Regions from separate parts of the Homo sapiens genome. Here regions 2 and 3 are each linked to region 1. Evidence: fine-mapped expression QTL. A gene starts in region 1. Each other region holds a variant in brackets. All regions are shown on one strand. Distances are between the middles of the regions.

Region 1 (5,231 bases):
TTAGGATAAGAATATCCTCTCTCCCAAACTTCACATACCGGGGCCTGTCAAGGGGTGGAAGGATAGGGGAGGGATAGCATTAGGAGAAATACCTAATGTAGATGATGGGTTGATGGGTGCAGCAAACCACCATGGCATGTGTATACCTATGTAACAAATCTGCACGTTCTGTACATAATGTCCCAGAACTTAAAGTACAATAATAATAAAAAAAAAATCCCCTCTCCCTTCTTTTCCGAAACCAAGGGCCTCTCAAGACTAATGGGAGGAAAGTTTATTTATTATAAAACTCAAGATATTTTGTTTAATATAGTATGGGAGATATATGAGGGGAGCTTAATCTTAACAGTGCAATGACCTGATTTTTAAAATTAACCCGAGTCCCTGTCCAACAGCAGAGCATGACAGAACAAACTAATGCTACCTGCTCCAGATACAGAAAAGGTAGGACATTGGAAAATCTGGGTGGATGGGGGTAAAGGATTCAGATCAGCCCATAACGGCCACGTGATATACCCTGACGTCCTAGGATTAAGGCCATGAGCCATGGAAGGAGGTTGGAGGACAAATGAAATACAGAAAGTCATAATATCTACAACCCTGTGGTCTACAAAGGAGTTTGGTTATACTACATGAACCTGAAATAGATGATGGATTAAAGTCTCCATTATTCCATGTAATGATAAAACAATTTCAAGTGATCATAAGACCATTTTATAATGAATTCCTTCTTTCCACTGTAAAGGCCATAGTGTTAGATTGCTTACTCTTGTTAAGATTTACTGGATGCTAACAGTCCAGCACTGGCTAGGCATCGAGAACATAAAAATAAATGAGAAGTGTTCCTGCTTTTAAGATGTTCCTACTGTGGCAAACAGAGAGCTACAAAATATAATAATATAGAAGTATGTAAAAAAAAAAAAAAAAAGGAATAACCAATTCTGCCAGGTTGAATAGTAGGGTCACGAGGAAACGACGTTTGAGCTAGGTCTTGCTAGATGTTTTTAAATAAAATGTTTTTCTTCCATAATGAATATGAAACAATTAGAAAAAAAATGGGAAAATTGAGTTTTCAAGGATGAGTTCTTCAGGAAAAGAAAAGCTTTGGCTTTTAGAGAAATTGGATTCATTCATTCATTCATTCATATTCATTTAGCAAATATTCATTGCCTTCACTCCAAGCTAGATTCCGAGAATCCAACAAACGGTACTTGCCAAAGGGAACCTGTCGGCTGGTGGGATGATAGAGATCAGACAGTTGCCACACAATGTGAAAAGTGCCGTGAAAAAGTAAGCATAGGGTGATGTGGAAGCACATGGTTGCCTCTAATCTGGACAGACTGAAGACACTGAGATTTACAGTTAGGCCAGGGTCATTTGAAGCACTGCCTTGTTGTATTTGTATGTAATGACATTTCGAAACGTGGAATGAAAGGAAAAGTACAGGCAGACTATAAGAAGCTTCCACGGATGTGTCTAACTTTGCAAATGAACAAAAATCTAATGTAGACATATCCTGGAAACTTCTAGTTTGCCTGCACTTTTCCATTCCAAATGGAGGTTTGGACATTTAACAGAGGCCTCAAAGGGTTATCCTGTTAAGATTTTAGTATATACAGCAGGGGCTTGAAGGAATGTTGATTCCATTCCTCTTGGCCTCCTTTTATGAATCCAGTTCTGTGCTAGCTCTGTGAGTAAATGAAAATGCCTTCAAAATTGGGATGCCAGAGTTAGACAGCAAAGGAGCAAAGGAACCCGTATCAGCTAAGTGTGGGAAGGGAAATATGTACCAGTTGCTATATACTTTCACACGTTATTTTAACCTCATAACAACTCTTATCAATTCAGATGATGGAACAGGGTTAAAGAATAGAGGCTGAGCACCTGGCTGTCCACGGACACACTGAGCCAGCAGGAGCACCCGTGCCCCGCAGCAGCACCCAGGGCCCTCCTAGAGTTCCGGCCTTAACGCCTAGGAACGTGCCATTGGCTCCTGCGTTTCTCGTTCCCGTCGGGAACGCCACTGGCTAGTACCTTGCCTGGCCCCCAGTGCTCAATCCCTGGTAGTTGGGAGGACGAAAAGGAAATCCCTCTCTGGTCGGTCCTCACCGCAGCCCTGTGTCAGGCCGTCACACGGCGGCCTCCAGAGTCGAAGGCGCTCTGAGGAGATGCAGGTTGTGTCCAAAACCTCCCACCTCGGGGTCTCCTGAACGTCCCAACAAGCTCCTTGGGCCCTTAGGCGTTAGGCCAACCCCAGGCCTCGGCTGGCCCCGCCCACTCTCCGCGGCCGGAAGTGGCGGCGCCGAGTGAGGTAAATGCGTGCCCGGAAGCGCGACCTCGGGCGGTTGGAGGGGCTACCGGGTCTTACCAGTCCGTGGCGGGAGTCCCGGAGGACCCTCGACGGGGGAGTTGCCGAGAAAAGGCCTCGCCGGCATTCTTCCCCTCCACTGGGTCCTTTGAACCTAGTTTGGCTGGGACTCGCCTTCAGGCGGCGCGGAGGATTTCGAGGCCCTGAGGCGCGGCCCTTAATTTCCGGAAGTGGGGGCCGCGCCGCGCCGTCAAGATGTGCTCGACGCCCGGAATGCCGGCGCCGGGGGCCTCGCTGGCCCTGCGGGTGTCCTTCGTGGACGTGCATCCCGATGTGATCCCGGTGCAGCTGTGGGGGCTGGTGGGCGAGCGGCGGGGCGAGTACCTGCGGCTGAGCCGGGAAATCCAGGAAGCGGCGGCCACGCGCGGCCAGTGGGCGCTGGGCAGCGCCTCGGCCTCGCCCGGCGAGCTGTGCCTGGTGCAGGTCGGGCTTTTGTGGCACCGCTGCCGCGTGGTCAGCCGGCAGGCACAGGAGAGCCGTGTCTTCCTGCTGGACGAGGGCCGCACCATCACGGCCGGAGCAGGCTCGCTGGCGCCTGGGCGCAGAGAGTTCTTCAATTTGCCCTCGGAAGTGCTGGGCTGCGTGCTAGCGGGCCTGGTGCCGGCAGGCTGCGGCGCGGGCTCAGGCGAGCCGCCGCAGCACTGGCCCGCCGACGCCGTGGACTTCCTTAGCAACCTTCAGGGCAAGGAGGTGCACGGGTGCGTCCTGGACGTGCTGCTGCTCCATCGCCTGGTCCTCCTGGAGGTGCCTGATGTGTTCCAACAGATGCGGGAGCTGGGCCTGGCTCGGCGGGTGCCCGACAGCCTCTTCCGTTCGCTGCTGGAGCGCTATCTCACAGCGGCCACTGCTAGCGTGGGCTCCGGGGTCCCGGTTCTCTCGCGAGTCCCGCTCAAGCAAAAGCAGCCTGGTCTGGATTACTTCTATCCCCAGCTGCAGCTGGGCGTGACGGAGGCCGTGGTCATAACCCAAGTGTGCCATCCCCACCGCATTCACTGCCAGCTCCGCAGCGTCTCGCAGGAGATCCACCGCCTCTCCGAGAGCATGGCCCAGGTATACCGGGGTTCCACGGGGACAGGGGATGAGAACTCTACCAGTGCCACCTGGGAGGAGAGGGAGGAGAGCCCAGATAAGCCGGGCTCTCCGTGTGCATCCTGTGGCCTGGATGGACATTGGTACAGAGCACTGTTGCTTGAGACTTTTCGGCCCCAGCGCTGTGCCCAGGTGCTTCATGTGGACTATGGAAGGAAGGAGTTAGTGAGTTGCAGCAGCCTTCGGTACTTGCTGCCTGAATATTTTCGAATGCCGGTGGTGACCTACCCTTGTGCTTTGTATGGACTCTGGGACGGTGGGAGAGGCTGGTCTCGGTCACAGGTCGGTGACCTGAAGACACTGATACTAGGCAAGGCAGTGAATGCAAAGATTGAATTTTATTGCTCCTTTGAGCATGTGTATTATGTCAGCCTGTATGGAGAAGATGGGATTAATCTGAACCGTGTGTTTGGAGTACAGTCGTGTTGCTTGGCTGACCGAGTCCTTCAGAGCCAGGCAACAGAGGAGGAGGAACCAGAAACATCTCAGTCTCAGTCTCCTGCTGAAGAAGTAGATGAAGAGATTTCACTCCCAGCCTTAAGATCTATCAGGTTAAAGATGAATGCCTTCTACGATGCGCAGGTAGAGTTTGTTAAAAATCCTTCTGAGTTTTGGATTAGGTTGAGGAAACACAATGTCACCTTCAGTAAGCTGATGAGGAGAATGTGTGGTTTCTATTCCTCTGCCAGTAAGCTGGATGGTGTAGTTTTGAAACCTGAACCTGATGACCTTTGCTGTGTCAAGTGGAAAGAAAATGGTTATTATAGGGCCATAGTCACCAAATTGGATGACAAGAGTGTGGATGTATTCTTAGTTGACCGAGGCAATTCGGAAAATGTGGACTGGTATGACGTAAGGATGCTGCTTCCTCAGTTTAGGCAGCTACCAATATTGGCTGTGAAGTGCACCCTGGCTGATATTTGGCCTTTGGGAAAAACTTGGAGCCAGGAGGCAGTTTCCTTTTTTAAAAAGACTGTGCTCCACAAAGAATTAGTCATCCATATTCTTGATAAACAGGATCATCAATATGTTATTGAGATTCTTGACGAATCAAGAACAGGGGAAGAAAACATTAGTAAGGTAATTGCCCAAGCTGGATATGCCAAGTATCAGGAATTTGAAACAAAGGAAAATATCCTGGTAAATGCCCACTCCCCAGGGCATGTTTCAAACCACTTTACTACGGAGAGTAACAAAATACCTTTTGCCAAGACTGGAGAAGGAGAGCAGAAAGCCAAGAGAGAGAATAAAACCACATCTGTTTCAAAAGCTTTGAGTGACACAACAGTTGTAACAAATGGTTCAACTGAACTAGTTGTGCAGGAAAAAGTGAAAAGAGCATCTGTTTATTTTCCTCTTATGCAGAATTGCTTGGAAATTAAGCCAGGCTCCTCTAGTAAAGGAGAGCTGGAAGTTGGAAGTACAGTAGAAGTCAGAGTGTCTTATGTTGAAAACCCTGGCTATTTCTGGTGTCAGCTGACCAGGAACATACAAGGACTTAAAACTCTAATGTCTGATATTCAGTACTATTGCAAAAATACAGCTGCTCCTCACCAGAGAAACACCCTTGCTTGTTTGGCTAAGCGAACAGTAAACAGACAGTGGTCCAGAGCACTTATTAGTGGGATACAGTCTGTGGAGCATGTCAATGTAACATTTGTAGATTATGGAGACAGAGAAATGGTATCTGTGAAGAATATTTATTCAATTAGTGAAGAATTTCTGAAGGTTAAGGCACAGGCTTTTAGGTGCAGTCTTTATAATTTAATTCAAC
Region 2 (5,231 bases), 34 kb after region 1:
GCATCACTGGCACCAGCTGGAGCTTGGAAATGCAGGCTCCTGGACTTCACCACAATTCCACTCAATCAGAAAAGGAGTGCCCATTAAAGTTTAAGAGACACTGGGCTGAAGTTCCAGACCACCTGCCTGACACACAGGTCAGCAATCCATGGTCAAATGGTAGGAGGTAGTTTCAAGAAAGGCAAGGGGAGAGGGGATGGAGATGAACAAACCCTGTGAATTGGAGGGACATGGTTCTATTTCAGATTTCAGGTGTACCTCTTACAAGCTATAATCCTCTGGCCTAGTTGCTCCCCTCTCTGATCCACATTCGTAAAATGACATAAAAGCACTTGACCAGCCCACAGTACAGTTGTAAAGATGAGGTGAGAATGTAGGTCAAGTTCTTAGTACAAAACATGACACATAAGGGGTAGACAAATAATGCTGTTTACTCCTTCCCCAGAGTCCATTTACTCTTGCTAGGTAAATCTGTGCTGAGTCCTTAGGGAAGTTTTAGCAGGTCTAACCTCTCCCCAGGTAGATTCAAACCCCAGAAACTTTTTTTTTAAACTTTACCTGCAAGGTGAACTTTCAGGGTCTATTTTGAATTACAAAAGGCTCTTCTTCCATTAAAAGAGTATCTACTGAGCCATGCTTCTGGTGTAACAGGGAGATGTGAAGTCCCAAGGAGGAGGACCTTAAGGTAGGGACACCTGCTTCTTCTTCTGTGGTAAGCAGCCTGGTGCTACTGCAACCCCACCCCTAGGCAGGCATGGTGTGCCTGTGCAGGGCTTGCTGCAGGGAGACCTCTGGCTCACACAACTCGCTAAGGAGCCCCAGGGCCACAGCTGCTGTTGGAGACACTACCTCTAGAATTGGAGGCTCAGTTCTGGAGGCATGGGAGGGTTTCACCCAACACAAGCCTCCGCTTGTGAGATCTCAATTCCAAAGGACAGGGGAACATTTTCCAATAAGTTAGGAGTGCCCTGGTTGTCCAACACCTGTTCTCCCTGGGAAGTTTCCTCACTCAGCATTCAGGAGCATTCAGGTCAAGGTGAGGTCTGCCTGTTCCAGGACACCTGACCTCTGAGAAGACCTCAGGAATCATCAGGCTGATCCAGGTTTTGGTATAGGTCTATGGGGTCCTATGCACCAGTGCCAGGGTGCCTGGGGGTGGCTGTGGAACAGGCTCCATAGCCTACAGCTGACCCGGTTATGGGCCTGGATTTCCCATTCTCTAACCATCTGTCAGGAGTCATCATTAAGGAAGTGGAAGGAGGAGACTCATCAGATCAAATGACCACTCACACAGTTTTGTGGTTCAGAATTTATAAATGTCTCTTCTTAGTTTTCTTCAACTTTATTTTAATAGGAGGATTGGAACCTATGGCATGCTATTAATTTTATTACATATTTTTGGTGGTTTTCATTTGTCAAATATTCCTGATGTTCAGTCTTGGGTTTGGAGATGAACTGTATACATGCTAGGACAATTACACTCTTATATGGCTTTATGTCCTCCATTAGTAAAGAGGATATCTCTAGCCCATTCCTACAAACCTTTTAACCTGCATAGCCATATTTTCTGTGTATTCATTTAGTAAGAAATTATAAAGAATCACCTATTATTTTAATCTTATTTAATAAACTGTTTCTAATACTTTAAACCAATATATATGCATTCTTTTTTTGTTTGTTTTGAGACAGAGTCTCGCTCTGTAGCCCAGGCTGGAGTGCAGTGGTGCAATCTCAGCTTACTGCAACCTCCTTCTTCTGGGTTCAAGCAATTCTCCTGCCTCAGTCTCCCAAGTAGCTAGGACTACAGGTGTGCACCACCACACCCAGCTAATTTTATGTATTTTTTTTTTTAATATAGACGGGGTTTCACCATGTTGGCCAGGCTGGTCTCGAACTCCTGACCTCAAGTGATCCACCCACCTCGGCCTCCCAAAGTGCTCAGATTACAGGCACGAGCCACCATGCCCGGCCTGCATTCATTTTTGAACATTTAGAATGGGCATTGCATTGGGCTCAATGCTGGGACTATAAAGATAAAGCAACGTCCCTGTCCTCAAGTTTCTGTCAGTCCAGCAACAGCCTTCCAATTATTTTTAAAGACAAAGGGATTTTAAAAATGTTTAAATTTTTACCCTGTACCAATTAAAAGTGAAGGATATAAATGTTTCCCGAATGATGATTTTCCCACCATCTAAGATATTACCTGTTCTCAATCCATGAAAAAGGTAGTAGGAAAAATGAACTTAATGTCATCTAGGATGCAGGACCCTTGAATTTGACTACACATTTATTGTCTTAGTCACCAGTGTATCCTTGATGACTTAACTTCCTGATGCGTTATAGGATGAATGGACCTGTGAGATATTATTCTATTTCCTATGCAAATGTAGATATAAGATATAAAACCTCTCCTAA[T/C]GCATTCATTTTCCTGCTTATGTAGTAGGGCAAAATTTAAGGTACTGAATTATGAAAGCTCTTTTGCAAATGCTATCGTAAGGAGTCACCCATCAAGCTTGAACAATTAGATCCAGAGTGACCCACAACTATCCAGGTGCACAGCTCTGTAGGTATAGTCAGTATGACACCATTCAGAAGCCACCTACACTGCTCTCCATAGGAGACTGGAAAGAGAAGTTTATGCATCACAATCCTCTGGGATGAGCAGGAATTTGCAAAGCTCCAGAAACAATCTTTTTCCAATTAAGGTCTCTCTTAGTGACATTAAATGTAGCCGTCTAAAGATGGCTGTCCCGTTTTGGCCACTCCTCCTGGGTTAGTCTATGCCTTCCACCTCTTTCTTTCCCCACTTACCACAAGGCAAGAAAGAATGAGTGATCACATCCATTCTCATCTGGAACTCCCTAGCACCTACTTGTCCCTACTTCTCTCTATTATCAGGTAGGAAAGATTGTTTCCTTTTGGATCCCAAGACCTGAAATTGTTATCTCACATGACTTTCCACTATTAACCAGGAGTATGCCTGTTGAACAAGACACCTGCTTCTTTTTCACCTCATGGAAGCAGGTTTTGAGGCTGTCTTGGAGTGGACTCCAGACCAGTTGCATTACTATGCTTGTGTGGGCATGCGTTAGGGCAGTCAGAGAGAGAAGGGGTGGCATTAAGGAGGTTCTCCGTGGTGATTGCAAGCTGAGCGTCCAGTATATCTTAAAATGTCCCATCCTGGTTCTGTCCTGCAGTCCTGATACTGAAGAACACAAGTGCTTCTTCAATTTCAGTTGAAATGAGGAAAAAGTGAGAACCTCTCCCCTACTCCAGGAGAATACAGGATCTCCATAAGCCTTTAAATAGGACTTGTTTAGATGTGCAGATGTGCAACTTCTTGGGGCCCACTTGAAGTATGGCGACAGATCAGTTGCTCAAGACCTTGAACAAATACACCTCTTACCTGATGATTTCATATGGGCAACAGGATTTATGTATTGCCAGTCAAAAGGATAAACCACAGCCAGGCAGCCGCAGAGGCAGAAAAGCACATGCAATTTGGGTGGCACCATCTTGGGAGCTGAGCAGCAGTTTCAGCTTAGTCTCCTTCGAAGCAGATGATTAAAAGAAAAAAGAAGTATGCAATGAAGAGGCCTTAAATAAGCTGACAAATCAAGAAAGGCTGAGGTACTAGTAACACTTGGAAAAAATAAAACATGTATTTTCTGTGCTGGGTTTTAGATTGGTACTACAATGGTAAAATCCTTGGTAATGTAGGATTACCATTACCTACATTACTAAGGATTACATTGGATTGTAGAGCAGAGAAATAATACTTTCAGACAGTTAGATTAAGTTTTTGGTCACTAGTTTTCTAACTTTATAACAGTATGGTCAGCTATAAAAATAGCCAACAAAATATAACAAATATAACAACCATCTGTCATCATCATAATAATATCCATAGGTATGTCTAGCACATAGTAAATAATTCATAAATTTTGGCTATTTCCATCATTTAATTATATAGTGACTATATTTCTGCTGCTGTGGTTGTTTTGGGTGTTAATATGATGTTATATTCTTGCTAATTTCTATAATCCTACTATGATATAAGTTTCCAAAAAGCAGAAGTCAGGTCTTATTTGTTGTCTCAGTGCCTAATAGAGGGCCTGGAAGAAGTAGTATTGCATAGATGCTTGTTGAATCAGTAAATGAAACAAGAGAATATGAGATGTGTGGTAATAATAAATTATAATTAGTCTGTATGCTAACATCTTATTAGCAAAAACTATCTTGCATTTGTGCATCCATTTTCCCCCCTAAAATTTGGCCCTTCAACTTTTGTGGGGGATAGAAAAGGTCCAAGCCACCATCATCTCTTACCTAAAATTTGCCATCACCTCTAACGAGTCTCCCTGCTTTTGCCCTTGACCCTAAAATCTATCCCCAACACAGCAGCCAGAGTGATTGTGTCACCCTTCTGCACAAAACCCCCAAATGGTGTTATATGTTACGGGGGAGAAGCCATTCACCCAAAATAGCTTATAATGATCTACATAACCTTTACTCAACACACTCCCAATCCTTCCCCTAGCCCCTCTTGGACACCTGCTGCAATCACACTTGCTTCTTTGCCATTCACCAAACATGCCAAGTACTCCACACCCACCTTCCATCCCCACTTTGAGGGCTTTGAATGTGTTCCCTTTTATGGGAATGCTCTTTGCTCTGACACCCAAATGACTGGTCCTCTCACCTCCGGGTTTTTGCTCCAGTGATACTTTCTCAGTGACACTTTCCCGGTTCAATCTATTTAAAATTGCAATCTAACCTCCTTCTTCACACCAATACATTCCCTATTTCCCTCCCTACTTTATTTTTCTCCAATATTTATCACCAACTAACGTACCTTGTATGTTATTTGTTAGTTGTTTATCACCTTCCACTAAAAACTTAGTTCTGTGAGTGTAAGGATTTTTGATGGTTTTTCCCCCTGCTGTATTCCCAAGACCTAGAATAGTGCCTGGTGTACAGAGGCACTCAGTAAATGCCTGCTGAGTGAATAAATCTAGCACATCTGGTTACTAATACAAACCGAGCCAAGTTTAATGATCCGGTGTCCCACTGACACTAATGAAGCACTCGTTAGTATAGCTATTTTGCGGGAAGATGTAATATAGATGTGTGGCACAGACAATGAGTGCTCCTGAACATCTATGTGCTTCCCTACATTTCTTAGCCGCCCCTGTGGTTGGGCTGGGCCCATGGGGCTAATTCCTGAGAAA
Region 3 (5,231 bases), 27 kb before region 1:
TGTGTGGGAAGGGCAGAGTCTGAAAAGAGCATGCCCCATTTGGAGAAGCATCAAGAAGCCCACGTGTTAGAAGCACCGGCCCCATGAGACAAAGACACAGCTAGAGAGATTGACTAGGCCATGTCGGAATGTCCTCTTATTTTATACATACATAAGCATATAGATACATATAGCCAAAGTTACCTTTTTAATGATCTTTTTTACCCAGTGTATTCTGGAGGTCGAATGGTCACATATGAACATCTCCGAGAGGTTGTGTTTGGCAAAAGTGAAGATGAGCATTATCCCCTTTGGTAAGTTTTGTTTGGAAAATAATATGCTGTTGCCCCAAATGCCTTAATGTTTATTAGGTTTATGTAAAATTGTACATTTGTACCCAAATTGCCTTAAGTTATGGACTTAAAATAATAATTACAATATAAGTCCAGATAATTGAGCATTTACTGCAGATGTATACAGACATACATGTATATACATATATAAATTGCATATATAGAGATATTTAGTATTTTACTGTTGAAAGAATTCTTATAGAGTACCTTTTTATTCCTCTTTTTATTAAGAACTCTCGGCTTTAGAGTCAGACAGGGATGGGCTCAAATTCCTGCTCTGCTACTGTATAACCTGGACAAACTGCTTCACCTTTTTTATCTTCAGTTTTCACAGCTATAGAAGTAATACAAACCATTAAGTGTTTTTATAGGACACGGTGAGATGATGAATGTAAGTGTATATTATTTAACGGAAACTGAAAAAATCGGTTACTAAAAATAATATACATAGAGCTCCTATAAATAAATAGAAATATAGAAAACACACGCTGGGCGGGGTGGCTCACGCCTGTAATCCCAGCATTTTGGAAGGCCAAGGTGGGCAGATTACCTGAGGTCAGGAGTTCGAGACCAGCCTGGCCAACATGGCAAAACGCTGTCTCTACTAAAAATACAAAAAATTAGCTGGGTTTGGTGGTGGGGGACTGTAATCCAAGCTACACAGGAGGCTGAGGCAGGAGAATCGCTTGAACCCAGGAGGTGGAGGTTGCAGTGAGCCGAGATTGCACTGTTGCATTCCAGCCTGGGTGACAGAGCAAGGCTCTGTCTCAAAAAATATAAAATAAAAATAAAAAATTGCATATATATATATAATTATATATATAAAATTATATAACCTCTCAGCTGGACCACTGCCATCTAACTCGTCTCCTCCTCCATCCTCAAATGTGTACCCGGTATCCAGAGTGATTTATTTGAAACACAGATATTAACACATTATTGGTGTCCTTAAAACTTGTCACTGGCTTCTAATCACCCACAAAATAAAGTGGAGATTTTGGAATGTGACTTAGAAGATCTGCAATATCTGGCCTGTGTCTTCAGAGAACTAAGCAATTCATTGATTCTCTTGGAAAGAGTGGTGCACTAATGAGCTGAAAGATTCCACTGCCTGCACATACCAAACTGTTCTTCACCTCTGTGTCTGTGTGTGTGTGTGTGTGTGTGTATAGAGAGAGAGAGAGAAAGCACAATAGAAAAATAAGGAAAGGATACCAATAGGCAGTTCACAAAAGAAATATACATGTTCATTAAACATAAAAATGTTCAAACTCACCAATAATCAGGGAAATTAATTAAAACTAACTTTAAGCTGTTAGTGGAAATATAAGTTACTATAGTCTTTTTGGAGCATAAATTACTTGTTAACATTTTTGAACGTGTAACCCCTTTGTGATTATAATCATTTATAAATGCTTCTACATATGCATTAAGACAGACACAAAGATATTGACTGTAGCAGTGTTGATGATAGAAAATTATTTTTTTAATTTAAACTATTGATTTGGAAGCAGTTAAGTAGGTTATGATATATTTATGGCATAACACAGCTATTGAAAGCATGAGGTGGGTTTCATATGACTAACATGGAAAGATGCCTATAAAATCTTTCTTAGGGTTAAAAAAATCTAAGTCACAGCTATAAAAAGGGGCAATATGTAGAGTTTCACCTTTCAGGCAACATTTCTTTATCTTGTTTTTGAAAAATTGTAATGTACTAAGCTATACTAATTGCTTTCCCAGAGTCAATTATGGAATAGATTTATAGTCCTTGCGTTTTGGAATTTCTTCCAGAAGGGAAAGGTTTAAGTAAAAAGTGCAAAGGAAATATTATACCAGAACTTTTAGGGTGGATAGGTTTAATGTCCTTTTGACCCAATCAGAACAATTCATTCAGTCAGTAGGTATTTATTGGGTAATTATGGTATGGTATGCCAGTCTTATACTTAATACTGAGGCTATAGTAATGAAAAAGAAACAGTCCTGCCGTCATTCAGCTTACAGTAACAGAGTCGATGAATAAACAATTAGAATTATGTAAAAAATACAGAGAAAAGAGTGGTTATGAGAGATGCAAAGAGAAAAAATATGATAATGTATGTGCTCATCATTGTGTGGAGAAACAGGTATGAGAGATGCAAAGAGAAAAAATATGATAATGTATGTGCTCATCATTGTGTGGAGAAACAGGCATTTTCACAGGTTGTTGGTGGAAGTGCAAATTGATAAAGGTTTTCTGGAAAGCAATTTGACAGGCTCTAGCAAATGTTATGTAAATGTTCAAATTTCTTAAAGTTA[TG/T]TTCGTTAAATAAATTATGGCATATCCATAAAATGAAATACTGTCAAACTATTAAAAAGAATGAGGCTGCTCTATATGACCTGATAGGGATAGCCTTTAAGATATGCTGTTAAGAAAACAGTGCAGAACACTGTACAACTTGACATTCTATGTTAGCGCTTTTACAAAGGAACATTTATACAGATATGCTTGTGTATGCACAAACTGTCAGTCATAACTTAGTGTTTAAGACTGTGGGCTCTGCATGCAGGCTGTCTGGATTCACATCTTGGCTGTCCCACTGATTAGTTGTGTGATTTGAGCTGCCATTCAACTGCTCTATGCTTCAGTTTCCTCATCTGACAGAGAGAATGACAGCACTGTCATGAGGGTTGATATGAGAATGAAATGGTATTTTTAAAATGCTCAGAACAGTGCCTGACATGAGCATTCAGTGAATTCGTTATTATCTCTGGCAAGGGATATAATAAAATAGTAATTGTGATTGCTTCACTGGAGGGGAGCTGGACATAGAGGTCAGAAGGAGACTTTTCTTTTATACCCATTTGTAGCTCTTCAAGTTATTTTAAAGTAAAAGGAAATAAAATGCTTATTTTCCCCAAGAGACTACTGCAGTAATCTGGGTTAAAGTTGACCGGAGTCTAGCCTTTGTCTGTTAGGCTGACTACATCTATGCAGTTTTTATTCCCCTGTAGTTGGAATTAAACTACAATTAAATTATCAATTCAGATGTGTGTATCTTTGAAGCAACTGCTCTTTCCTTTGGATTTCAGGCCATATAAGGCCTGAAATTTTCACTCATTGTACTCCTTTAACCTCCCATCAGTAAACAGTCAAACTGTTTACTTTACTCTGTGACTTACTTGGGTATATCCTTTTCTTTACTTGATCTGAAATCTCTTACCTAGGCCCTGTACCAGCTCAGTATTGGTTCACTATAAAATTCGTGAAATTAATGGCAACTTTAAAAAGAATTTCCTTCTGCAATTAGGAAATCAGTCATTGGAGGGATGATGGCTGGTGTTATTGGCCAGTTTTTAGCCAATCCAACTGACCTAGTGAAGGTTCAGATGCAAATGGAAGGAAAAAGGAAACTGGAAGGAAAACCATTGCGGTAAGTTCTCCAATTAACCAATACCTCTCTTTTTCCCTTGGCCACCGTCATATTTTTAACAAGTACCTAATAGAATTATCATCCAGTATGCAGTAAAGATATTACTTCTGACTTTTTTAATCTGGAAGTTCATTAAGAGGAACACTAAGCTGGATCTTTTCTTTGCACTAGGAAGTGTACATGTTCTATACCAGACAAATTATATATGTGTAATGTTCTTTGCTGCTTTTCCCAGCCAAGGCTAGACTTGTCCCCTACTGCAGGTTAACATAAACAGTTTGATTATTAAAATTTGCCCTGGTGTGAATCTCAATTTTGCCACTGTGGCTTGGTGTTGTGGAAGTCACTTAACATTTCTGGTCTCTTGGGTTTTCATCTTTATAAACTCGCTCAAAAGGCTGTCATGATGGTTAACATGCCTGACTGCTCATTAGTGTGAAAAACCTTGCTTTCATTCCCTTTCTCCTGCAGAAAGAGAGTAGCAAGGATAACGTTGCATATTGTCCCAACTTTCTTGTTGAATCTCATTCCTCCTTCATCTTGAAGCCCTCTTTTTCCCTAATATGGCTTTGGGATATAAAATCCTCCCATTGCATTACACTATATTACTAAAATCCACCTTTCTTCCAAGGGTTTCATGTTCAACAGTTTATTAAAATACCACTTAGTTTCCCCTGGGAAAGGGACAAAATCATGCAGATGGATAGACCTTTCCCAGAAAAAAGGTAATTACAGGATGACTTGAGCTGAGTACAAAGGGAGCTGCTCCTGTGAACACTCCAGGTCTGCAGCTGAGCCAGAGGCAAAGGAGGGTTTGGGGCCATCTTCACCGCTGACCACTGCTGTCTGCCCCTCTTCATGTAGCTGACTCAGTGGAAAAGGAGACTGGGCTGCTGCAGCCCAGGGTCCCCTTCAGCCTTCAAAGCATGTAGAGAATATGCACAGCACAGGAGAAAAGGGTACCACTGTGACTTAACCAAGTAGTTTATAGAACCCCAGGGCCCAGTTTGTCATCTTATAACAACTTCTAATGACTAAATAACAGGGAGAAGTCACACTGCCTTGTTGGATAGGAGGAGAAAACTGGTTATTAGGATCCAGAATATCTGAGTTTTTAACTGATCACTCAGTTTTTTTCCCCTCTTTGTTCTTAATGTTGGAAATTTTTGGATTGAATGCACCTAATGTAGTACACTTTAATAATCAAACTCTTTATATTAACCTGTAATAGGGGACAAGTTATATACTACAGTAAAAAGCATGAACATTGAGATCAGACAGCCTGGGATTCAAAGCCAGTCTTTACCATATTTTAGCTTTGTAATCATAGTCAAGTTCCTTACCCATTTTAAGCCTTGGTTTCTTCGAATGTAAATTAGAATCATATTATATACCTCACAGAATTTTCAGTATTAACATGCATCTCATGTATATTAAATGCTTGGTACTTAGTAAGTGCTCCATAAATTTTAGTTACAGTGATCAT

Direction of the effects. Alleles are on the strand shown, and positions count from the first base shown. SD is a standard deviation of normalised expression in the study named. Not every link is listed here.
In carriers of allele T in region 2, the expression in macrophages of the gene that starts at base 2,320 in region 1 tends to be lower than with C alone (moderate effect, 0.54 SD a copy in Nedelec 2016).

Evidence for each region. PIP is the estimated chance that this variant, and not a neighbour inherited with it, causes the effect. A credible set is the group of variants that fine-mapping cannot tell apart.
Region 2: its variant is the best candidate, but not a certain one, in a credible set for the expression of TDRD6 in macrophages (Nedelec 2016, PIP 0.87).
Region 3: its variant is the best candidate, but not a certain one, in a credible set for the expression of TDRD6 in prefrontal cortex (CommonMind, PIP 0.57).

Annotation. Positions count from the first base shown.
Region 1 is chr6:46,685,566-46,690,796 of GRCh38, forward strand. It overlaps TDRD6 (tudor domain containing 6), which reads left to right and starts at 2,320. Exons shown (of 4, transcript NM_001010870.3): 1 at 2,320-5,231. The coding sequence starts at 2,564. It overlaps TDRD6-AS1 (TDRD6 and SLC25A27 antisense RNA 1), which reads right to left and starts at 2,600. Exons shown (of 2, transcript NR_134643.1): 1 at 2,369-2,600.
Region 2 is chr6:46,719,377-46,724,607 of GRCh38, forward strand. It overlaps PLA2G7 (phospholipase A2 group VII), which reads right to left. Exons shown (of 12, transcript NM_005084.4): 2 at 3,407-3,549. The coding sequence starts at 3,515. Among named protein-coding and RNA genes, the nearest start is that of PLA2G7, 13 kb to the right of the region's middle. The variant T/C (reference allele first, on the strand shown) is at 2,416.
Region 3 is chr6:46,658,754-46,663,984 of GRCh38, forward strand. It overlaps SLC25A27 (solute carrier family 25 member 27), which reads left to right. Exons shown (of 9, transcript NM_004277.5): 3 at 209-293; 4 at 3,623-3,745. Among named protein-coding and RNA genes, the nearest start is that of SLC25A27, 8.4 kb to the left of the region's middle. The variant TG/T (reference allele first, on the strand shown) is at 2,631.